Homo sapiens: one gene and its partners. The protein of the gene in region 2 purifies or fractionates together with the protein of the main gene of each other region. This does not show direct contact. Each region holds a gene or a part of one and is shown on either strand. Other genes may lie near its edges. The genes, in order: ACAD11, POLR3E, SLC25A19, CHM, SLC25A20, FMNL1 and TRMT1L.

Region 1 (3,500 bases), on a different chromosome or scaffold from region 2:
CAGAAAATCTCTTCTTCCTTTGCCTTTGTTTCTCTCTGTATCTCTTACCCTTACCCACTCTTCTGGATTCTAAACTCCTAGTACAGGGACTATGTGTTATTCCAACTTTGTATCTATTGCAGCATTAATAAAATAGCTTATGCATAGTACATACTTAAGAGACAGTTCTGAAATTTGAAATGTTTAATGGTGGTGGTTTTAAAAACATAGAAATCAAAATTCCCATGAATTCATAGTGAACCTTATTATAGAACTGACTTTTTTTCACTAGAAAGCCATTTTTATTAAGGGCAGCTCATCTCTTTCCCAGGATTTGTATAAATAACAAAAGGAATGGGCTAGGCCATTTTCACATTCCCCCTTTTTTTCCCCTTTCTTCCCAGGTGAAGGTAGGGGATTTGAAATTTCCCAAGGCCGCCTTGGACCTGGCAGAATCCACCACTGTATGAGAACAGTAGGTTTGGCGGAACGCGCTTTGCAGATCATGTGTGAGCGGGCAACACAAAGGATAGCTTTCAAGAAGAAGTTGTATGCACATGTGAGGACGATTACTTATTTGAATTTATTGTAGCCCGGTGCACTACACTAACATTGAACAAAAACATTACTTGTGAGAGACAGACTTTCTCTACATGAACCGGGTGATTCTTTTCAATAAGGCATATTTATGTCTGTATTTAAATATAGTCTAATGAGAGGTATTTATCTTTATGAAAAATTAAATAGTTCCTAAAATGCTTCAACACCTCTGCACACAAGAGTGTAGACAGTTCCTTCAACTTTCTCAGATTCTTGTTCTTTAGAGAACCTGGAACATTAGAGCTCCCTGTGGACATGAAGGAGCTGTCATAAGGAAGAAGGATTTGCCTTGTCCATTGGTTTCCTAGAAGGAATTAGGACACATAAGTGTAAAGTTACAGGAAAACAGCCCAAAACTCAGGGAAAGGAGAAACATGCTAATAAACCTAAAAGTGGAATCAGCTTCTTCAGGAGGACTTGAATTCTGTCACTGGAGAAACACAAGTAGAAATGGGACCAACATTTTGTGAGATATTCATGACTTTTTGAATTATCATCTGTAAATTATATACTACTGAGTCTGTTGTTACAAATCACTGTAAACATAGTTACATGTGGCCCATATAATAAAAATTAGGAAATATGGCCAGGCGCAGTGGCTCACACCTGTAATCCCAGCACTTTGGGAGACCGAGGCGGGTGGGTTGCCTGAGCTCAGGAGTTCAAGACCAGCCTGGGCAACATGGTGAAACCCCGTCTCTACTAAAATACAAAAAAAAACAAAAAAAATTAACCAGGCATGGCGATGTGCACCTGTAGTCCCAGCTACTGGGGAGGCTGAGGCAGGAGTATTGCTTGAACCCGGGAGACAGAGGTTGCGTTCAGCCAAGATCGTGCCACTGCACTCCAGCCTGGCGACAGAGCGAGACTCTGTCTCCAGAAAAAGAAAAAAAATTAGGAAATATGTATTGAGATGAAATAGAAGGTATTATTTCAGACTTCCTTAAAAAGTCTTCTACAGAGAAGTAGGATATCCACATCATCTCCCTTCTAAGTTTTAAGAAGGCAAGAAAAACTATTATTAAATGTTCACTCTTTATTATTGCTAACATGTTAGTGTTAGGTCAAATCTGTGGTGATGGAATTGTATTTGTGTTTGCTGCACATGTATATTTTAGTATGTCGGTCTCCTTATACATTTTTGACCATCTTATGAAATTTGCAGTATGTATTTTTTACCTTAAATTATTATAATCTATGTTTGCTTTTTGTAAAGTATTATTCAGCATTATATGATTTATTTGTATAGTTTTTTAACTGAAAAGCTACAGCCCGCTTTATGACACTACACCTGGGAATAATTTGTCAGGAGCCCTTTTAGTATACAGCGAAGGCAAGTTTTTAGTATACAGCAAAGTTCAGCTGTTGGCTGGGCACTGTGGGAGGAGGTGAGAAAGTGTGACCCTCTGGGGCCCTGGATACAGCCTCTGATGCTGTTGAAGAAGGATGAAGAGGTGCTCAGGGCACCAACCATTACTTCTTACCCTTTTGTCAAGCTTGCATGCAAACTCTGGAGCAGGGTGAAGGGAGGACACAGTAAAGTCGACAAACAAGCATCGCGAATGCACAAAAGCCCTCTGTGCAAGTGCTGCTTTCCTGAGTGGTGTTTTAATACTGCATTAGTAAAAAATTTCCCTTCCACCTTTTAAAGTTAATGTGTCATGCAGAGCAAGCCTGGCTTTTTAACAAATATGCCTGTTTTCACTGGAAACTTTTCACATCTGGCACAAATAACGTGATCTGGCAGAAACAAAAAGATGTGTGAGCATGTCATAAGCAAAAATCTGGGCCAGCTTTTTTATTTTAATTTGTGAAAGGAACATTTCATTTCTTTGAATTTGGAGGCTCCTTCCAGCTGCCTTCTAATTTACTCCAGGCTGTAACGCAAAAAATTCTCCATCCCAGTTCTGTCTTAGGAAATATATTTGGCAGTTCCCTAGAGCACCTAGTTTCTACCCATTTAATGCTTTTCAGCAAATCTAGGGTCTATAGAGACCCAACTGAGAATACCTCCTTTATTCTAAAGCTGAGAAGTAAATGTCTTCTAAGTCTGTTCATGAAGTTATAAAGTTGTAATTATCCTGTTTTACAGCCATCAAAAAATATTTATTCACCACCAGCAACTTGTTTGAAATTAATTCAGAGCCATGTTTCAACCTCTAGGGCAGTGCCATCCAAAAGAAATATACTATGAACCTTAAATGTTATTTTAAATGTTCTAATAGCAACATTTTTAAAAAGTGAAAAGAAAAAGATGGAATTAATTTTAATAATATATTTTATTTAACCCAATATATCAAAAATACTATTTCAACATGAAATCAATATAAAAATTATTAATGAGATACTTTATATTTTAATATTTATTCTTCAATATGGGGTGCATATTTTATACTTATAGTACATCTCAGTTCAGACTAGGTATGTTTCAAATGCTCATTAGCCACATATGGTTAGTAGCTATCATGTTGAACATCACCGCTTTAGGGAAACTCTAATCAAATATCCCCTGTTGAAGGGCAAACATGACCAAGCATAAAAATGGCCAAGGTGTGCATGTTCTCACTCATAAGTGGGGAGATGAACAATAAGAACACATGGACATGGGGAGGGGAACAACACACACCGGGGCCAGTTGGAGGGTGGGGGCAAGGAGAGGGAGAGCATTAGGACAAATAGCTAATGCATGCAGGGCTTACAACCTAGATGACGTGTAGATAAGTGTAGCAAACCACCATGGCACCTGTATACCTATGTAACAAACCTACACATTTTGCACTTGTATCCCGGAACTTAAAATAATAAAGAAGAAAAGAAAGGAAAATAAAAGGACAATTAAACGTCAAAAAAATGGCTAAGATGTAAGGAAGGTGCGCAGTTTCAATCCCCTGCAGATGGCTAGCAAGTTATCCCAGCACCAT
Region 2 (3,500 bases):
ATCTCTAGAGACCCAGCAAGACAGTGTACAGAAATAAAAACACAAAAGTAAAGGCATTAATGCTATGTCTGGAAACTTGAATATAAATAAAAACAAAGGTATATGCCAGCATAACAAAAGAACTGGTGAAGAGACATGAGAGGATGAGTGGCTTGAACATATTTCTGCATGGTAAAATGCAGGCGTGCATCGGACTTAGCAAGCAGGTGAAGCGACAATCTAAGCTGCACGGAGATGAGAAGAGGGTGTCAAAATTGGTGTGAAGTCTTAATGCACAAACATGCCACTGCATCCATGAAACAGGATGCCGTAAAATACGTTACACCCCAAAATAAAAATGGAAAAGATTGGATTCAGTATGTCTAATATCTGTCATAAGAATTCTGAAAAAAACAAAAAAAAGTAACAACTCACAGGATTTTATAAGAACTCAATTGTCTAGTACAATAATGACCCGCACCAGGGCACAGCTGAAATGGCACTGACTGATATACAGAATAATGAAAAATTCTGCAGTTTGGCATAAAGGAAAGAATACAGGCCAAATTTAAAAGACCAAGAAGGAGAATGTTATGGAATTTCAACAACTCTGAAAACTTAAACAATGGAAACTCTCTTAAAGATGCTTCATGCCGGGCGCAGAGGCTCACGCCTGCAATCCCAGCACTTGGGGAGACCGAGGCAGGCGGATTACCTGAGGTCAGGAGTTCGAGACCAGCCTGTCCAACGTGGTGAAACTCCGTCTCTACTAAAAATACAAAAATCAGCCACGCGTGGTGGCACACGCCTATAATCCCAGCTACTCAGGAGGCTGAGGCGGAGGTTGCAGTGAGCCGAGATCGTGCCATTGCACTCCAGCCTGGCTGACAGAGGGAGACTCTGTCTCAAAAAAAAAAAAAAAAAAAAAAAAAAAAAAAAAAGGATGCTTCATGTATCACTATTTGTCTAGGACTAGAATTTTGAGAGGCAAATCATTTGATCACGTAAAAATAGAAACTTTGATAACCTCACACATTGTTCCATACTTAGCTGGTTTTGTTTGCATCTTTCTGCAAACATTAAGAGGAGATGGATTTGATTCTCCTTTTTTTTTGCTATGGTTCATGTAAACAGCTGACTGCTACATGAAGTATCCTTTGCCTCTTAAAATTCTAGTCCCAGACAAACAGTAATACTGTATTGTAATCCATTTTAAGACATGAAAGAATGCAGACAACTCCTCTGTCTCTTCAGAAGCTAAAGCAAGGAAGAAGCAGAGATTCCAGAATTCAGCAACAGACATGGGGAAGAGCGAGTCTCACTGGAGAAGCAGAGGGAGAGGCTTCCCGGGAACCAGGCTTAATTAAGCAAAGTATCACCCTCGGTACACATGTGTTCAGAAAATTACACAAGTGAAAACAGGAAGCAGTGAACAAGGAAATGCAATCATAGTATATTACTGATGTTTGGCTCTACAATGGATAGATTTTCAGTTCATTCTGTGACAATGCTATAAACAATGATAGCCAATTAAAAAGAGGTAAAGGCCTGGTGTGGTGGCTCACGCTTGTAATCCCAGCACTTTGGAAGGCCAAGGCAGGCAGATCATTTGAGGCCAGGAGTTCGAGACCAGCCTGGCCAACATGGTGGGACCACCCCCCGACCCCTACCACCGCGATCTCTACTAAAAATACAAAAATTAGCTGGGTGAGGCAGCACAAGCCCGTAATCCCAGCTACCCGGGTGGCTGAGGCACAAGAATCGCTTGAACGCAAGAGGCGTGAGCTGAGATGGCACCACTGCACTCCAGGCCTAGATGACAGAGCAAGAGCAAGAGCAAGACGCTATCTATCTCAAAAAAAAAAAAAAAACTGGCGTAACATATCTATCTCTACAGTCTCCTAAAATAGTTGAGAGCTAAATCTCATCCACCACAATGGGAAGCCCATTGCTAATGACAGGCTGATTTTTTTTTTTAAATGGGGGCAGCTATTTTAGTGGTATCTTTTGGTGATGTAAATGCCTATGATCCTAGCACTTTGGGAGGCTGAGGCAGGAGAACTGCTTGAGGCCAGGAGTTCAAGACTAGCCTGGCCAACATAGTGAGACCCTGTTTCTATTAAAAAAGTAGTAATAAAAGTGGTCACCTCTGAGGGGTGGCAGTCAGGTCCAGCAGTGCAAGAGCTTTCCTATTAAAACTTCTAGTCTGATTTGATGTTTAAAAATCTGCATTTATGACTTTTGTTTTTTTGCCTTTTTGTTATCAAAGTATTTCAGATACCCTCTATTCTGGACAAAAGCACTCAAGCTTGCTCAGGAAAAGGCCCCAGCCCCTTAGATCCTCAGCCTGCCAGTTGGCTCCCCTAAGAGGCAGCTGGGGACAGAGAGCTCAGTGGGATTTCTGCTGACTCCCTTCTCCCCACACCTTAGGAGCAGGGCCTAGACACGGTCAGACCGACTGGCGTTTCGACCATCAAATTAGGTACGTTCACGGCCTAAGAAAAGCTGGGATGCAGGGTCCATGACTACACCACACACACGCAAGGCGCTGCTGCTTCCACTCACATTTCTGGGCACTGGACACCTGTGACCCTCCCCATCACAGTATGACTAGAGGCAAAATGACCAATTTCTTTAACCTAAAAGTCCAGGACCTGACATCTGACAAGGAATCCTTTTGATTCCTGCTGCCAGAGGCCGCCTGAGAAATGTGCTTCACCAGTGCTCTATAAGCCTGGCTGGATCAGAGTTGCTCAGGAAGCTTTACAGAAATTCAGATACCTAGGACAGTACCGCATACCTACTGAACAGAACTGAATCTATGTTTTTTTTTTTTTTCTTTCTGAGACACAGTCTTGCTCTGTCGCCCAGTCTGGAGTGCAGTGGTGCAATCTCGGTTCACTGCAACCTCTCTCTCCCAGGTTCAAGCAATTCTGTCTCAGCCTCCCACGACTATGGGCATTTTTAGTAGAGATGGGGTTTCACCATATTGGTCAGGCTGGTGTCAAACTCCCAACCTCAGGTGATCCACCCACCTTGGCCTCCCAAAGTGCTGGGATTACAGGCGTGAGCCACTACGCCCAGCCTGTATTTTTTAAAAGATGATTCTGATGGAGCTGGCTCACAGACTGGCATCTGGGAACCACTGGTTTAGGTTCAAACTATTGGCACATACAGCTTATTTTGTTAGCGTACAGAGTTGGAGCAGGATATTTAAAACCGAGTGTGCCAGAAAATCTGAAATGTGTGGCTGCACTTTGGGTGCACATGTCCCCCAAGGCCTCCAACGCTGCAGGAAACCCCCCTGGCTCTTCGGGAAGATGGCAGCAAAGTTCACCTCACCTGATCACTCATGTCTCCAGACTCCCAGAGGGCAAACACCTTCTGCTCATCCGGGGAAGCAGCAGTCTGGGGGGGAAACTGACCAAGGCCCAGGGGTGAGTTGCTTGTCCATCTCTACCCCATGGATCCATTTGCTTGCCTCATCCCTCCCTGTCTGCCCCAGCCCAGATGCAGGAACA
Region 3 (3,500 bases), on a different chromosome or scaffold from region 2:
TTCTTTTATTTGATAAGCATGTTTTTTTTAAATATATGATTTTTATTTTTATTTTTATTTTTAGTTATTTATTTATTTTTTTTGAGACAGAGTCTCACTCTGTCGCCCGGGCTGGAGTGCAGTGGCACAGTCTCGGCTACTGCAAGCTCCGCCTCCTGGGTTCACGCCATTCTCCCTCCTCAGCCTCCCGAGTAGCTGGGACTACAGGTGCCCGCCACCACGCCCAGCTAATTTTTTGTATTTTTAGTAGAGACAGGGTTTCACCAGTCACAGGATGGTCTCGATCTCCTGACCTCGTGATCCGCCTGCCTCGGCCTCCCAAAGTACTGGGATTACAGGCGTGAGCCACCGTGCCCGACCTATTTTTATTTTTATTTTTTTCAAGAGACGGAGTCTCGCTCTTATTGCCCAGGCTGGAATGCAATGGCCAGATCTCGGCTCACTGCAACCTCTGCCTCCTGATTTCAAGCAGTTCTCCTGCCTCCGCCTCCCAGTAGCTGGGATTACAGGCGCCTGCCATCATGCCCAGCTATTTTTTGTACTTTTAGTAGAGACAGAGTTTCGCCATGTTAGCAGGCTGGTCTTGAACTCCTGATCTCAGGTGATCCACCCGCCTCGGCCTCCCAAAGTGCTAGGATTACAGGCGTGAGCCACCGCACCTGGCCTATATATATATTTTTTGAGACAGTGTCTTGTTTTGTTGCCTAGGCTGCAGTGCAGTGGCATGATCACTGCTCACTGAAGCCTCGACCTCCTGGGATCAAGTGATCCTTCTGCCTCAGCCTCCCCGGTAGCTGAGACTACACCTGGCTGAGTTTTGTATTTTTTTAGAGACGGGGTTTCGTCATGTTGCCCAGTCTGGTCTTGAACTCTTGAGCTCAAGCCGTCTGCCCGCCTCGGCCTCCCAAAATGCTGGGATTACAGGCATGAGCCACCGCACTCGGCAGAGGTTGAGTTCTTGTCCTTGCAGAAAGCAAAGCTGGGAGAGGTTCGGGTTTTCAGTTTGTCTGGCAGTCAGTTTGTAAAACCCATGACTGTGGGCAGCACTGTGCGGGGTGCTCTATGTCCCTGCCTCAAAGGAGCTCACAGCCTCCCTGGAAGACAGAACCTACTGCTATGAAACAGAACAAATAATTACCCAGCAGTGGGCTGGATCAAGGACTGCCCACTTGAGAATTTATTGCTGGATTATTATGAGAGCGTCTTTGTTTTTTTGTTTGTTTGGTTGGTTGGTTTTTTGAGACAGTCTCACTTTGTTGCTCAGGCTAGAGTGCAGTGGCGCAATCTCAGCTCACTGTAACCTCTGCCTCCTGGGTTCAAGCGATTCTCCTGTCTCAGCCTCCTGAGTAGCTGGGATTACAGGCACGTGATGCCATGTCCGGCTAATTTTTATATTTTTCGTAGAGACAGGGTTTCACCATGTCGGCCAGGCTGGTCTCAAACTCTTGACTTCAGGTGATCCCCTGGCCTCTGTCTCCCAAAGTGCTGGGATTCCAGGCATGAGCCACCACGCCCGGCCAATTGCGAGTGTCTTTGGTTTCCACAAAGAATGGGCTGGTGGAAATGGGATAGACTCGAGGAAGAATTTACTGAGTGAAAACAAGGGATTAAATCCTGAAATAGACCTCCCCACCATGATCTCTGTTTCCTGGACATATTTAAGAATAGCATCATATGTATGTGTGTCTGTGTGTTCTCAACCAAGAAAGAATAATTTTATTGTTATTATTTATATATATTTTTTGAGACAGGGTCTTGATCTGTCACCCAGGCTGGAGTACAATGGCTGCAATAGCTTGCTGCAGCTTCGAACTCCTGGGCTCAAGCAATCTTCCTGCCTCAACCTCTCAAGTAGCTAAGACCACAGGTGTGTGCCATCACACCTGACTAATTTTTTATTTTTTTATTTTTTGTAGGGGCAGGGTCTCATTATGTTGCTCAGGCTCAGGCTGGTCTTGAACTCCTGGTTTTTTTTTTTTTTTTTGGTTGTTGTTTGTTTGTTTTTGAGACGGAGTATGGCTCTGTCGCCCAGTCTGGAGGCACAATCTCAGCTCACTGTGACCGCCTCCCAGATTCAAGTGATTCTCATGCCTCAGCCTCCCAAGCAGCTGGGACTACAGGTCCGCTACCATGCCCAGCTAATTTTTTTTTCAGATGAAGTCTCACTCTGTCGCTGAGGCTGCAAGCTCCACCCCCAGTTTTAAGTGATTCTCCCGCCTCAGCCTCCCAAGTAGTTGGGATTACAGGCGCCCACCACCGCGCCTGGCTAATTTTTGTATTTTTAGTAGAGACGGGGTTTTGCCATGTTGGCCAGGCTGGTCTTGAACTCCTGACCTTGTGATCCACCCATCTCTGCCTCCCAAAGTGCTAAGATTACAGGCGTGAGCCACCGCGCCTGGCCATGCCTGGCTAATTTTTATATTTTTAGTAGAGATGGGATTTTGACATGTTGGCCAGGCTGGTCTGGAACTGCTGGCCTCAAGTGATCCGCCCACCTGAGCCTCCCAAAGTGCTGGGATTACAGGCATGAGTCACCATGCCTGGGCTTTTTTTCTTTATTTTTAAGGCAGAGTCTCACTCTGTCATCCAGGCTGAAGTATAGGGGTATGATTACAGCTCACTGCAGCCTCCACCTCCTGGGGTCAAGCAATCCTCCCACCTCAGCCTCCCAAGTAGCTGGGACCATAGGCACTTGGTACCACACCTGGCTAATTTTTGTATTTTTTGTAGAGATGGAGTTTCATTCACCATGTTGCCCAGGCTGTTCTCGAACTCCTAGGCTCAAGTGATCCTCCTGCCTTGGCTTCCCAAAGTGCTGTGATTACAAGGCTGAGCCACCAGACCTGGCTTATAAACAATAATTTTTCCACTGTCTCAACTCTGCTTTAGGATACTGTTAGTGGGAAAGGAAGGATAATTTGTTTAAGAGTTTGATGTGGGCAACATGGCTCTCTACAAAATACAAAAAAATTAGCCAGGCATGGTGGTGTGCACCTGTAGTCCCAGCTACTTGGAAGATTGAGTTGAGAGGATTGCTTGAGCCTGGAGAGTGAGCCATGATTGCACCATTGCACTCCAGCCCAAACAACAAAGTGAGATATCCTGTCTCAAAAAAAACAAAGAATTGGGCTGGGCGCGATGGCTCTCGCCTGTAATCCCAGCACTTTGGGAGGCCAAGGCGGGCGGATCACAAGGTCAGGAGATCGAGATCATCCTGGCCAACATGATGAAACCCCGTCTCTACTAAAAATACAAAAATTAGTTGGGCGTGGTGTCAGGTGCCTATAATCACAGCTACTCGGGGGTCTGAGGCAGGACAATCGCTTGAACCTGGGAGGTGGGGGCTGCAGTGAGCCAAGATTGTGCCTAGGCAACTCCAGCCTAGGCAACATAGCAAGACTTCGTCTCAAAAAAAAAAAAAAAAAAAGATAATAGCATATTACCTCTAGCTTCAACTATTGACATGTTGGATTTTAGATTCTAGAATGATCAGAGAATAT
Region 4 (3,500 bases), on a different chromosome or scaffold from region 2:
GGTTATAATGTGATCCTACTGTCCCTGATTTGTGTGACATTATAAAAGGGGAAGTGAGGGAAAGGGGACTAAAGAGATGGGGAGGGGCTGTACACTGGGAGGTAGGGATAGGAGCAGCCTGAGAGGCTAGTAAGTTAAGTTCTTCCATTACTCTGGCTTGAACTATATCTGCAGTGGGTAGAAAGGTGAGGCAAGAGCTATATTCCTTGGTTCTTTCCATTTCCCATGAATCTGTGACCTGCCACAGCTGGCTTCCTTTAAGAACATCTCTGAAACCTGGTGAGGTCAGGGACCAGCTGCAGTTGAAGTATGTAAGAACTATGTACTTTACATTGGAGCCATGGCTTCCTGACAGACAATATAGGCCAGATGTTGTGAGAAAAAAAAACAAATAGTTCATTTGTTTGTTTATTTATAGGCAATTATAAGTCTCAACTATTGCTCAAATAAAGTAGACCATCAGAGCTTGGCCATTTGAGAAAATTTAAATATAGGCAACATCACTGCAGCTTAGTTTGCTGCCTATGTACAGCCCCCTTTTTTTTTTTTTGTGAGACAGAGTCTTGCTCTGTCACCCAGGCTGGAGTGCAGTGGCAAAATCTTGGCTCACTGCAACCTCCGCCTCCCTGGTTCAAGTGAGTCTGCTACCTCATCTTCAAAGTAGCTGGGATTACAGGTGCCCACCATAACACCCAGCTAAAATTTTGTATTTTTAGTAGAGACAGGGTTTCGCCATGTTGGCCAGGCTGGTCTCGAACTCCTGACCTCAAGTGATCTACCCACCTCAGCTTCCCAAAGTGCTGGGATTACAGGCAGCCCTAACGTTTTTATGTAGTGTATATTAGGGCTTACCAACTGTCATACACAATTTGGAGTCCTTGGTGGTTGCAGGTTTACCTACCAGAAAAGGAATAAAACAATTTATAGAGTGTTTTCCTTAGTAATATTTCAAAACCACAATTCTACTTGTTACTATTTTTACTGGTCTGTAAGACTATAAAATACTACTTTAAAAAAGAAATTTTCATTTAAAAAGCTTAATGCAATAAAAACACTGTGATCTATTTTGTTTGGAAGTTGACTGACAGCAAGCAATTATTTCCTGCGTGAGACTTTTGAGATTCATCAAGTCAATGGGAAAATTCTAAAACAATTTTCTTCTGGCAAACCGATTCTAAACATGGCATTGCATTGTCTTCATAACCATTCTCATATAGTAGGCATAGTAATACTATTTCCACTTTATATATGGAGAAACGTAGGCTCAGAAGTTAAACAATTTACCAAATATCATCAGTAGGACAGCCAGGATTAAATTAGGTCTGTAGACAATTAGCCTAATACTCTAGTTACTTGACAGACAGAATATTCAAATACCAATGAGCCTATCCACACCTTTCCTTCCATTCTTTCATTTCTTCATTATTGACCTTTCCCAATATGTAAATAATTTACAAACAAATATCACTACTGATACTAAAAAACACTACTGACTTATTCGTAAAAATGTCTAAACACCTTTATATTAGCATTTTCAATGCTTCTCAACATAGAAAGCAAAACAAACCTGTATTCCAAATACAGGCTTCTATCTAGATCATGATACTTTAGTTTTTCTATATGTTTTTATCATTATGTTATGATGCTCTTGTCCATAAAGAAAATAAAATTCAAATAACCAAAGAAAATACATGAGCTGGTTCTGAAAATGTGGCTTTCAAACAAAGATCCAAAGTGGTAAGCAAAATTGTCCTAAGACCATGGAATTATTAACAATGCATAGGATCACTTTCATATCCACAGTTACATTCCTGAGAATCAATTGATTTATAATTTTCATCTGCTAGTCACACAAGTTTGGTATTTAAAATGAGCAAGTCAATGTGCTTTATAAGTGTTGTGTGTTCTTGGAATGTCCTCTATAAGGAAAATCCCCTTTTGGATTTCTATTACCTATTTTGCCTTATAATTGCTGCTGCTTTCTAACATTTCTCAAACAGTCCTTCTATCAAGTAGACTCTGAGACCAGTCAGAATTTCCAAAGTTGGGTATCCAGTTTGGTGTATATCCATTATTCAGAGGACTCCTCTAGGTTTCCAAGGTTTGTGCTTTCCTTGAAAGTCTCCGAGTTAGCCTCTGGTATGGCACTGGATTCTGAAGCCTCTGGCTGTAAACTGTCTCCATCAAGGATAATGTCTTCAGGATTTGGTGGAGGGGGACAGAAATCTTCATTGGGGCAGATTTCCTGGAAAAGTGTTTCAGCCTGGCCAAGGAAGAAAAGATAAAATCGTTTTTGGAAATCGGTTTAAAATGTGTGTGCATTTCTGGCATTAACTAAAAAAAAATAAGTGTTTTATCCTTAAAAATTTGCTTAAACAGGCTACAGTACTTAATCAGAATACATGAACTTCCGTAAGTCTGTTTTCAGAATTCTATGACTTCTCCCTTTAATTCTATACATGTATTGAGGTCCACTCTTCAAGGATGGCAGTACCTCATCAGGTTCATTATCAAGTGTTCAGATTGTTGAGAACTGAAATACATTCATTCTATATATCAATAGAAATACAATTTCCTTAATATTGTTTATATGATTTCTTATAGAGCCTTGATATGGTTTGGTTCTGAGTCCTCACCCAAATCTCATCTCAAATTGTTATCCCCACGTGTTAGGGGGTGACTAGATTATGGGGGCGGCTGTTCCCATGTTGTTCTTGTGATAGTGAGTTCTCAGAATATCTGATGGTTTAAAAGTATTTAGCAGTTCCCCCTTTTCTCTTTCTCCTGCCACCATGTGAGATGTGCCTTGCTTCCCCTTCACCCTCTGCTATGATTGTAACTTTCCTGAGGCCTCCCCAGCCATGTGGCCTTGTGAGTTAAACCTTTTTTGTTTACAAATTACCTAGTCTCAGGTAGTATCTTTATGGCAGTGTAAGAGGCACTAGCATTGAGAATTGGTACCAGGAGTGGGGTACTGCTAAAAGATAACCTGAAAATGTGGAAGTGACTATGGAATTGGGTAACAGGCAGAGGTTAGAACAGTTTGGAGGGCTCAGAAGAAGAGAGGTAAATGTGGGAAAATTTGGAACTTTCTAGAGACTTGTTGAATGGTTTTGGCCAAAATGCTGATAGTGATATGAACAATGATGTCCAGGCTGAGGTGGCCTCAGATGGAGATGAGGAACTTATTGGGAACTGGAGCAAAGGTGACTCTTGCTATGCTTTAGCAAAGAGACTAGTAGCATTTTCTCCCTGCCCTAGAGATCTGTGAAACTTTGAACTTGAGAAAGATGATTTAGGGTATGTGGCAGAAAAAATTTCTAAGCAGCAAAGCATTCAAGAGGTGACCCAGCTGATTCTGAAAGCACTCAGTCATGTGTGTTCACAAAGAGATGCCTTCACATTGGAACTTATGTTTAAAAGGGAAGCAGAGCATAAAGGTTTGGAAAATTTGCAGTCTGACCATGTGGGAGAAAAGAAAAAACCATTTTCTGGGGAGG
Region 5 (3,500 bases), on a different chromosome or scaffold from region 2:
GAGTGCAATGGTGCAATCTCGGCTCACTGCAACCTCTGCCTCCTGGGTTCAAGCAATTCTCCTGCCTCAGCCTCCTGAGTAGCTGGGATGCATGCGCCACCACGCCCGGCTAATTTTTGTATTTTTAGTAGAGATGGGGTTTCACCATATTGGTCAGGCTGGTCTTGAACTCCTGACCTCGTGATCCGCCCGCCTCGGCCTCCCAAAGTGCTGGGATTACAGGGGTGAGCCACCACGCCCAGCTATTATTATTTTAATAGAGACAGGGTATCACTATTTTACCCAGGCTGGTCTCAAACTCCTGGGCTCAAGTGATCCTCTCAACTCAGCCTCCCAAAGTGCTGAGATTACAAGTGTGAGCCACCATACCCGGCCCCCACAGATTTCTTGAATGTAGAAAAGCCAAGCTTGGCACTAGACCCTTCAGGGATTCTTGAGAAGTTCCTTAGCAGCCACATCCTATTTGCAACAATCACTTTGCAGCTATGGGATGCTGCTCTGGGCCAAGCACTGGTGTAAGTGAGTACAAACACACATGATATAATTTCATTAAAGTTCCCTCAGCTGGGCTTAGTGGCTCACGCCTATAATCCTAGCACTTTGGGAGACCAAGGCAGGTGGATCATCTGAGGTCAGGAGTTCGAGACCAGCCTGGCCAACATAGTGAAACCCTATCTCTGCTAAAAGTACAAAAATTAGCCAGGCATGGTGGCACACACCTGTAACCCCAGCTACTCAGGAGGCTGAGGCAGGAGAGTCACTTGAACCCAGGAAGTGGAGGTTGCAGTGAGCTGAGAATGCACCACTGCATTCCAGCCTGGGTGACAGAGCAAGACTCTGTCTCAAAAAATAATAATAATAAGGCCGGGTGCGGTGGCTCACACCAGTAATCCCGGCACCTTGGGAGGCCGAGGCAGGTGCATCACCTGAGGTCAGGAGTTTGAGACCAGCCCGGCCAACATGGTGAAACCCCATCTCTACTAAAAATACAAAAAAATAGCCAGACATGGTGGCATGTGCTTGTAATCCCAGCTACTTGGGAGGCTGAGGGAGGAGAATTGCTTGAACCTGGGAGGCAGAGGTTGCAGTAAGCCAAGACTGTGCCATTGCACTCCAGCCTGGGCAACAGGAGTGAAACTCCATCTCAAAAAATAAAATAAAAATAAGTAAAAAAATAAATAAGGTTTTCTCTCAGTGTGAAAGTCCATGTGGGCAAGTGACATGCCCACAGTTATAAGCACAGTTGTTGTATCTGGCCTTCCTCTAAGCTGCCAGCTCAGGACAAGAGTGAGACTGTCTCTGCCTTTCCTACTGCCACTATAACAGGACATACTTCTCAAAACCAGGGAGATCACCACTGTCCCCAAGTCACACTTTCTTCCCACTCCTCCCTCCAGAGATGATTTCTATCTACTTGCCACTCCCCTCCAACTGTGATGCCATGACTTCTACCCCTGCAGACACCTGGGAAAGATGGAAGGTCCCCTCATCCTAATCTACGTCCATGCTGGCCAGGGGGAGATGCTTACTGCCAGTATTGTCAGAGATGTGACATGCATGGTGCCAAGGCTAATCTGGCAATCCAGGCAAGACCTTCTGCAGCAGACCCACCTCAGGTGACCTCCCCAGGTGACCTCAAGTGGAGGCCTGAAAGGTTACCTCGCATAAGGGTAAGCACAGTCCCTTTGTAGATGCCTCGGATCCCAAACTCCTGGTACAGCTTCTTTGCACAGTCCAAGGTACCAGTGTACTTGCTTTCTCCTGAAGAAGCCTGAATCTGGGAGGGAGGAGAGGATCATTAAGTCAGAAACATCAGAGTCACAGACCCAGCAGGTTACAGGAGACTACAAAGTAAGTATGGCCATTATGTGTTACAGCAATAAAAGACTTCACTGTCAAATTGATAAGTATCTGGAATGTGTGATCTTGGGGCAGGTACTATGAAATAAGGCTAGGTGAAAATATCAGAAAACATTCACATTGACTAGAAATAAAACCAACAGAAAATTTGAAAAACAAGTTGAGGAGGCCGGGTGCAGTGGCTCATGCCTATAATCCCAGCACTTTGGGAGGCCGAGGCAGGCAGGTCGCCTGAGGTCAGGAGTTTGAAACCAGCCTGGTCAACACGGTGAAACCCTGTCTCTACGAAAAATACAAAAATTAGCTGGGCATGGTGGTGGGCGCCTGTAGTCAGCTGCTCAGGAGGCTGAGGCAGGAGAATCGCCTGAACTTGGGAGGCAGAGGTTGCAGTTAGAAAACATATCGTACCACACTGCACTCCAGCCTGGGCAGCAGAGTGAGACTGTCTCAAAATTTAAAAATAAAAAATAAGTTGAGGAAATCTGTCAAACACAATAAAGCTATTTGGAAGGTCTAAAAAGGAAGCGACAAATACTTTAGTCATTCATTTATTCCTTCAACAAATATCCCCTGAAGACCAACTGCATTCCAAGCCTACCTGGTCATGAGAGTTGGTTAAGAAAAGGTGAACAGAAAATTTCACTCAAAGCTCTAAGTTCCCAGACAGGGGTCCTGTTCAGAGAGGGCTCCTATGCAGAGCCAGAGGAGGGCCAAAGAGAGGCTCCTACCCCGCCCCTGAGAGCCAAGAACCTGGGGGTAGGCAGGGGTAATCCCAGGAAAGATCTGAAAGACAGCTCCATGCAGGATCCACACAGGGATCCCGCTTGTTCAGGACCAAGAGGAGTCAGAACACACAAGAGCATCAACCAAACAATAATTAAAGCTGGAAAGGGAGTTCAGCTTTAACAGTTCCAAAGAGAAACACTTACAAATACATAAACCAAATAGCTTTCTTACATATCAGGATTAACCAGTTAAAAAATAATAGAAAAGGCCGGGCACGGTGGCTCACACCTGTAATCCCAGCACTTTGGGAGGCTGAGGCGGGCAGATCATGAGGTCAGGAGTTTGAGACCAGCCTGACCAACATGGTGAAACCCTGTCTCTACTAAAAATACAAAAATTAGCCAGGCGTGGTGGTACATGCCTGTAATCTCAGCTACTCAGGAGGCTGAGGCAGGAGAATCGCTTGAACCCAGGAGGTGGAGTTTGCAGTGAGCCGAGATCGTGCCACTGCACACCAGCCTGGGAGACAGAGCACAACTCTATCTCAATCAATCAATCAATACAAGAAATGGATCCCATTCAAAATAGCAATAAAAGCCGGGCACGGTGGCTCACGCCTGTAATCCCAGCACTTTGGGAGGCCAAGGCAGGCAGATCACCTGAGGCCAGGAGTTCGAGACCAGCCTGGCCAACATGGTGAGAGCCCCCATCTCTACTAAAAATACAAAACTTAGCTGGGCGTGGTGGCAGATGCCTGTAATCCCAGCTACTCAGGAGGCTGAGGCAGGAAAATGACTTGAACCTGGGAGGCGGAAGTTGTAGTGAGCCGAGATTGCACCACTGCACTCCAGCCTGGGTGACAGAGTAAGACTCTGTCTCAAAAAAAAAAAAAAAAAAAAAAAAAAAAAGCAACA
Region 6 (3,500 bases), on a different chromosome or scaffold from region 2:
GAGGCCTCCCCTCGGCAGTAACAACCAGGGGGCTGTCCTGGGGGAGTGGACCCAGGTGGTGGCTCAGAGTCAGCTCCAGGCTCAAAGCCAGCCCAGCTCTCCTCTTACTGGCTTCGTAACCTTGGGCAGGTCACTAAACTAATCTGTGCCTGCACCTGTGAGGTGGGAATGTTAACGGTGCCAGTGACGGCAGTGAGGGTGGAAGGCAGTCGTCGGCGCGCAGGGCTCGGAGCAGTGCCTTGCACAGTAGGCATTCTGGTGGAGCTGGCCACCTGACTGTTGGAGATGTCATTATGACTAGTTACTGCCCCTAGAAATGCCGCTGGGGCCATTCCAGAACCATAAAGTTCCCTGGGTGGGTGAGGGCCTGGGAGGATTCATGTCGGGAAGCAGCTGTCCCCTCTGTGGCTCTGTGCTGGGCTCAGCCATCCCCTTACTCCCTGGCCACCGTCTTTTGTGCCGGCCACGGCTCCAGTTTCCCTGGCACTGCTGGCCCTGTCTCTCCTCTTTGTCCCTTTTCTCCACCTTGCTCCCACCTTAGCCCTGCCCCACCCTTTGTCTCTGTGGGGTGGGGGTGACTGAGAGACATCATCGAGAGAGACAGACAGATGGACAGGGACAGAGAGACAGAGAATGACCTCGCCTCCTTTGTACTCCTGGGCGGTTCCCCCACCCCCTGCCCCTGTGGTAGCAGGAGCTGTCCTGGCCCTTGGAGGGCTGGGGGAGGGCGGCTGATGAGACAGCGGTGGTTTCCTCAATCCAGGCTCACTTTCGCAATAGGGGAGAGGAATGACGTATTCCACCCCCTTCAGCCGCTGGGGGCGGGGGGCCTGGCGGAGGGGCAGTTTCACCTCTCCAGCAGGGCCTGGCCGGAAAGCTTAGGCAATGGAGGCTGAGCGCACCCAGCTTCCTGTTGTCTGGGCCTGACCCAAGGCAGTGATTTTGGGGGTAAGGTCTGGCTGGAGCCCCAGAACTAGGCCCAGCACCCTGGAGGGGAAGCTGGCTGGGGAGTCTCAGGTGGGTGTGGCCCTCTGACTGCTCCAGCTGTGGCGTCTCTGCAGAGCCACATGACTGAGGGTGTGGAGCGTGAACCACCATGGCTGGTGAGCCCCTCAGGGTCTCCCACATCCCCGATGGAGACTCTTACTCAACTCAGATCTCCTTGAGGGCAGGAACTGTCTTTTTGGGCCAGACATATAGAAGGCTCTCAATAACCTGGGGTTTACTAAATTGAAGGGAACTGGCCTCATCTTTTGGGTCTGTCAGGGAGACAAGCCAAGTCTGGGGGTCCAGAAAGCCCCTGGTGCTATTGACACCTGGTTGATTCGGCAGCCCTGGGCTGGCGCTAACCTGCTCCGTGGTGGCAGGGGCACCGTACCCTTGTCATCTGTGGCCAGGGGAGGAGGACCCAGGCAGAGCTCTGTTGACCTTTCTCAGCTCCTGGGGGAGTCCCAGCTGGGCGGCCCCCACCACAGACCCAGGGCACTGGCTCTTCTCCCCAGTGCTGTGGCCGAGTGACCTTCCCCGCAAATCTCCCCGCCCCTGCAGCTGTGATCTGGAACTCCCTGCCTGCTGACATGGCCGCCCTCAGCTCCCCCAGCCCTCTCCTTCCTTTCTCAGCCTTCTCCTCCAAGTGGGAGGGGGCTGGAGAGGGATGAGGAGAAGGCTGCTGTCCACTCTCCTTGCAAGAGATTTCCTGGTGTTCGTGAGGCACTGGTGCCCTGGGCCTGGTCTGTGTACACGTGGGATCTGGTGGCACGTGGAGGTGGGACACTGGCCACTGGCCACTGGCCACACTTTGGCCTGACTGGTGATGGCTCCCCTGTTAGCTTCCCACCAGAATGGGGGAAGAGATGATGCCCCAACAGGAAAACTGGGGCCCAGAAGTGTCTCAGGTCCCCAGAGAGGTAGGCTGACAACCCACGCTCCTGCCTGCACACCAGGCAGGCCAGGGAGGCGGTGTGGGGGGTGACACAGCGCAGGCAGACTCGGATTCAAATCCTGCTCTCCCTTCTAGCTGGTGTGCCCCGGGAAAGGTGCTCTGTCTCTCTTGGCCTTGGTCTTCTCATTGGATAACACTACGTATCTCCTAGGGTCAGAGGATTCATGGGGGTGATGCACCTCCTAGGGAGCCAAGTGGGTTTCCCCCAAATGCCCATTCTCCCCTCTCCCCTTGTTGGGGCCCCAGGCTCAGGGGTCTTTGTCCTCCCTGTCCCCAGAACTGCATGAACTTGCCCCCAGACAAGGTCCAGCTGCTGAGCCAGTATGACAACGAGAAGAAGTGGGAGCTCATCTGTGATCAGGTAGGTGCCAGCACTGCCCAGCCACCCCTTCCCTCCCACTGTCAGTACCCCACCCTGACCAGGCTGGGGCTATGGGGAGAGGGGCACCGCCATACTGCCCATGGAGCCAAGACTCTGCTCAGTGGCCAATGTAGCACCTGGGGAGGGTGCTGGGGTCTGCAGGACTCCCAAATCCCTTTCTCTTGAACTCCCCAAAAGACCTTGTGAGTCACTAGCAGGGCTGGGTCAGCTTCAGAGGAGCTGGCAGAGCTGGTTCAGGCTGGGGCAGCTGGGGCCTCGCACTGTCACTGTCCTCCTGCTGAGCTTCCTGAGAAACCTCTCTGGACTGGGGAAGGGAGAGGGCGACCCTGGGGTTGGACATCTTCACCTGACCCCATGGGAGGGAGGGAGGAAGGGGCGGGAATTCCTGCCCTTTTGCCTTGGGTCCAGAGGAGCTGCAGTTGACCAGCAACTCCCCAAGGCCAGCCACTTTGGACCCCTGCTTTGGTGCTCCGTCCAGGTGCCTGGACTCACGGGTCACTCAGCTGTCCCCACCCCTCCAGCTTCAAGGGCTGCGGTCGGCCATGGGCCGACCCTCTCCCAGCGCTGGGCTGGGTGGGGCTCGGCTGCCGCAGGGATTCTGTGAAGGAGGGAGGCTGCAGAGGCTGGGGGTGGGGAGTTGGGAGCTGAGAGCCTCCCCTGGGAGCCAAGGCTGGGCCTTTGCCTCCTGCTAATGAAGCAGATGGCCTGAGCCGGCTGGGCAGCAGTCCAGGGGTAAGGGCTGGGAAGTGGGAAGAGGGTGGAGAGCTGCCCCTGGAGTCTCTGGTAGGGGTCCCCTTGGAGCAGCTCAGCCTGACATCTCAGAGGTTGGGGGCTCAAAGGGCTGGAAGAAGTGAAAGTCTGAGGGGTGGCTCGGCGAATCTGAGGGGTTTGGGTTGGAAGGGTGGGGGCCCCTCTGGGGAGGGGTCTTTGCCGTGGTCCCTGCCTCTTTGTGTGAGTGGCCGCTGGAGCCTGCAGTGGGGTGGGGGGATTAGGAATTGCATCACTGAGCACAGGAGAGGAGCACGCAGGTTCCTGCCAACGCAGATGTGCAGGGCGGCTGGGTCCGAGTCCTACCCAGGTGCTGGGTCCCCTTCACGAGGCACCTCCAGCCGTCCTTCCCCGCCGTATGCCAGCTCTGGTCCAGGGAGGGCACCACCTGCTGGCTAGACTGAGTTC
Region 7 (3,500 bases), on a different chromosome or scaffold from region 2:
CGTGTCACTTTCTAAACTTATCTGAAATTTTGGGGACGAGGAGTAGTTAAAAATTAAGACAGTTTTTTGTTGTTTATTTATTTAAATTAATGCCATTTTTTGACATTGGCCTAAGGTATGCAGTATGAAAATTTTCTAGTATTTGAAATAAAATGCCTGGGCATGTGACTTTTCCTCTAACCCGAATTTATTTTTACATGTCTGATACATCATACTATCATTTTATTACTTAATTTCAAAACAGAATTATGTACTTAAAATATATTTGCAATGTATTTTTAAATCCATGGAATTTTATAATTAGAAATAATTACAGTGGTATAATTTTTGTTACTAATATGACTTTAAAATGTCTATATTCTTTCTGATTTTAGACATCTAGACCCTTTTGGAACATCAGTGAATTATCTAGATTCTGCATTCAGAAATATAAGAAACCTTGGCATAGTGTCAGTGACTTCTACAGATATCAGTTCTTTATATGCCAAGGCACAGCATGTTGCCCGGCGTCACTACGGATGTAACATTGTCCGAACTGAATATTACAAGGAACTAGCAGCCAGAATTGTTGTAGCTGCAGTGGCAAGGTACCAAATTGCCAACAGTGTACTTAGTGTGTTTCAGTATTTGATAAAAAGAGATAATATTACAAGAAGTACTTACCTTATTCAAAATATGCACAAAATATAAATTCTGTATTCCTTATCTGTAATACTGGTTTTTAATCTTACGTGGTATCTGTTGTAATTTTATTTAAAAGTTTATACCTGAAATATTCAGTTTACTCTCCAATTAAAATGTTACTGAAATAAAGTATAAGAAAGAAAAGGTAAAAGTGAAAGTTAATTTCCAGTTTATTTCAACAATGTAGGATAAAGGATAGCTATATGAAAGGAAAAGCAAAAACTGTTTTGTTTTGTTTTTTCACCATGTTGCCCAGGATGAAACAAGACTCCTGGCCAACATGGTGAAACCCCGTCTCTACTAAAAATACAAAAATTAGCTGGGCATGTTGGTACACACCTGTAATCACAGCTACGATTATAGGTTGAGGCACTAGAATCACTTGAACCCAGGAGCCACATGCTGCAGTGAGCCAAGGTTGCTCCACTGCACTCCAGCCTGGGCAACATAGTGAGACTCTGCCTCAGAAAGAAACAGTCATTTCTTTTATATCCATTCTGTTTTATCTTCTTTATTTATATAGTTTGAATAAAATGATGGCTTACAAACTTGATTCTGCAAAATGGTCTTACAAAATGGGAAGTTCTCTCCATTTCTCACCAGGATTTCCAAACAGAATTTGAAAACAGTTATTTTTTAAAAGGATGACTTTTTTTGAGCACTTACTATATGCAGATTATGCTAGAATAATATAATATAAACGGATATTGTGAATATAGATAATGGATAATCAGCCAGCTCACTTGCCAGCCCCAATACTAGTTTCAGAGCATTTAAGTAGAAATTTCTACCTCAGGATAAATACAGATTATTAGACTTCATAGACCTTCAGGGTTGTTTCTAATTACCTGAAAACTGATGTTTACTGTATGCATGCTAAGGACTTAACTGCACATACTTAAAAATGTCTATAATGTAATATCAGCAAATTCAGAGTAATATATATAAATTAAATGTAGTATATGACTGCAGAGTACATAAATGGTATATAGTAGAGCTTAATCCAAAAAGTCTGTGAAATTAATGGTGGAAAGGACTTTGACTGTTCTTTTTTCACTCAATTTTCAGTAGCTAGCATACTATCCTGCATATAGTCATTACTCAATAAATAGATACTGTTTGAAAGAAGCTTTTATAGGAAATAAAATAGATAAAAAGGAAGCAATGTGGTGGTGATGATAAGAAACAAAGTGAAAATGACTGAAAACCAGAAAATATTGCCCTATTGAGAGGATATCGCAAGGGAAAATGTCTAGAAACTGAAGACCCTCCCAAGCATCTTTTATTTCCTGTGTTTCAATTTCTGTAAAAGTTACAGTAATGATCTTTTAAAAGCACTGCTACTGAGAATTGAATTTTTCTTGATGTCCCATAACTTATCCATAGTATACTGTCCAGGTTAATATTGTCAGTATAATGCCAAACAAGGGAAAATGATAAGCCCACAAAATAACTTGAAAAAATTTATTGTAGAGCTGCAGCCCGATGCAACAAAGGCATAGAAGTACTGTTTGCAGTGGCTCTGGAACATTTTGTGTTGGTAGTTGTGAGAGTTTTGAGGGGACCTACTTCAGCAGATGAAACAGCCAAGAAGATTCAATACCTGATCCATTGTCAGTGGTGTGAAGAGAGAATTTTTCAGAAGGATGGTAATATGGTAGAAGGTAAATTCAAGTTATATATTATGTTTATCTATAATCCTCCACTGAATAAGCCTTTATCACATACCTAATTATACATATTGTTGTCCTTTGATTTTAAAGATTACAGTGCTAACTTTGTTATTTCCTATACTGGATTTCCTTTCGTCAACAGACAAGACATTCGTGTGAGTTTATTAAAGTTATTTACTCATGCTGTACAATATATGCTTTCTAGCTCTGCCTTCTATCGAAACATCTAGAAATAACTTAGTTTCCACTCTCAACTAATTTTAGGAACATAAGTCAGATTACGTTTTTTCCAGGCTGTTACAAATCATTAATTTTATAAAAATAATTTTCATGTTTCTGGCTGTGTATAAAAGCCATCAGTTATAAAATGCATTCAATAAACATTTATTGAGCCTCTACTATATGCCAGGCCTGGGGATGGGAAACAAGGAAAAAGCTGTAGTTTATGCCTTCATAAAGCTCTTTCTGTTTGTTTCAGTTCTGGGACATGGAAACAGTTGCTTATTGTTTTCTGTTAGGTTCTTGGTATTTTATGAATTTTTGAGTTTAGCACTTACTATGTTAAGTTGCAGATTTTTTTCTCATTTTGTCACTTTTTTTTTAATCTGTGTTGCAGAAGTTTTTTGTTGCTAATTGAATGTTTATGTAGTCTGGATTTTGCCTGTAGTTAGAAAGAGCTTTCCTATTCCTGGATTATTCAAAGTAGATTAGGTTGTATTGAATAGTACACCTTTCCTCCACTGATTTGAGAATACCTTCTTTATCTTATACTAAATTTCCACATGTATTTGAGTTTGCTTCTAGATTTTCTGTTCTGTTCCAGTGGTTGGATATTTCTTCATACACGTCTATCATACTGTTTTGACTATAGAGGCTTTTCAGTGTCATTTAATATCTGTGATGGCAATCCCTACTCAAAGCTCTTTGTTTTCAGTGTTCCTGTATTGCTCTTTTGTTAATCCCTTAATATAAAAGTAAATAATAACCCAGTTGGCATATTATTTTGATGACATTAAATTGGGGAGAATAGATACTGTGATTTTTGAAGCTTCCTACAAATATGATATGCTTTTCATTTGTGCAAGTACTTTAGTATAATGTTAACTGGTGGTGGTAATGGAGGAAATTCTGTCATGTTCCTTA

What was found.
Region 1: the proteins of POLR3E (region 2) and ACAD11 purify together in Homo sapiens (affinity purification with mass spectrometry; 2 studies listed by BioGRID and IntAct, with this or other methods). This does not show direct contact.
Region 3: the proteins of POLR3E (region 2) and SLC25A19 purify together in Homo sapiens (affinity purification with mass spectrometry; one large-scale study listed by BioGRID and IntAct). This does not show direct contact.
Region 4: the proteins of POLR3E (region 2) and CHM purify together in Homo sapiens (co-immunoprecipitation; one large-scale study listed by IntAct). This does not show direct contact.
Region 5: the proteins of POLR3E (region 2) and SLC25A20 purify together in Homo sapiens (affinity purification with mass spectrometry; 2 studies listed by BioGRID and IntAct, with this or other methods). This does not show direct contact.
Region 6: the proteins of POLR3E (region 2) and FMNL1 purify together in Homo sapiens (affinity purification with mass spectrometry; one large-scale study listed by BioGRID and IntAct). This does not show direct contact.
Region 7: the proteins of POLR3E (region 2) and TRMT1L purify together in Homo sapiens (affinity purification with mass spectrometry; one large-scale study listed by BioGRID and IntAct). This does not show direct contact.

What each region holds. Positions count from the first base shown.
Region 1 is NC_000003.12:132,572,810-132,576,309, reverse strand, and holds part of ACAD11 (acyl-CoA dehydrogenase family member 11), read left to right. Parts: intron 1-383; coding exon 384-538; intron 539-3,500. UniProt on the Homo sapiens protein: Acyl-CoA dehydrogenase, that exhibits maximal activity towards saturated C22-CoA.
Region 2 is NC_000016.10:22,328,409-22,331,908, reverse strand, and holds part of POLR3E (DNA-directed RNA polymerase III subunit RPC5), read right to left. Parts: exon of another isoform or gene 3,400-3,500; coding exon 3,322-3,399; intron 1-3,321. UniProt on the Homo sapiens protein: DNA-dependent RNA polymerase catalyzes the transcription of DNA into RNA using the four ribonucleoside triphosphates as substrates.
Region 3 is NC_000017.11:75,279,434-75,282,933, reverse strand, and holds part of SLC25A19 (mitochondrial thiamine pyrophosphate carrier), read left to right. Parts: intron 1-3,500. UniProt on the Homo sapiens protein: Mitochondrial transporter mediating uptake of thiamine diphosphate into mitochondria. It is not clear if the antiporter activity is affected by the membrane potential or by the proton electrochemical gradient.
Region 4 is NC_000023.11:85,862,559-85,866,058, forward strand, and holds part of CHM (rab proteins geranylgeranyltransferase component A 1), read right to left. Parts: intron 2,264-3,500; coding exon 2,072-2,263; 3' UTR 1-2,071. UniProt on the Homo sapiens protein: Substrate-binding subunit of the Rab geranylgeranyltransferase (GGTase) complex.
Region 5 is NC_000003.12:48,860,883-48,864,382, forward strand, and holds part of SLC25A20 (mitochondrial carnitine/acylcarnitine carrier protein), read right to left. Parts: intron 1,778-3,500; coding exon 1,660-1,777; intron 1-1,659. UniProt on the Homo sapiens protein: Mediates the electroneutral exchange of acylcarnitines (O-acyl-(R)-carnitine or L-acylcarnitine) of different acyl chain lengths (ranging from O-acetyl-(R)-carnitine to long-chain O-acyl-(R)-carnitines) with free carnitine ((R)-carnitine or L-carnitine) across the mitochondrial inner membrane, via a ping-pong mechanism.
Region 6 is NC_000017.11:45,228,385-45,231,884, forward strand, and holds part of FMNL1 (formin-like protein 1), read left to right. Parts: intron 1-2,219; coding exon 2,220-2,303; intron 2,304-3,500. UniProt on the Homo sapiens protein: May play a role in the control of cell motility and survival of macrophages. Plays a role in the regulation of cell morphology and cytoskeletal organization. Required in the cortical actin filament dynamics and cell shape.
Region 7 is NC_000001.11:185,136,454-185,139,953, reverse strand, and holds part of TRMT1L (tRNA (guanine(27)-N(2))-dimethyltransferase), read left to right. Parts: intron 1-374; coding exon 375-587; intron 588-2,157; coding exon 2,158-2,348; intron 2,349-3,500. UniProt on the Homo sapiens protein: Specifically dimethylates a single guanine residue at position 27 of tRNA(Tyr) using S-adenosyl-L-methionine as donor of the methyl groups. Dimethylation at position 27 of tRNA(Tyr) is required for efficient translation of tyrosine codons.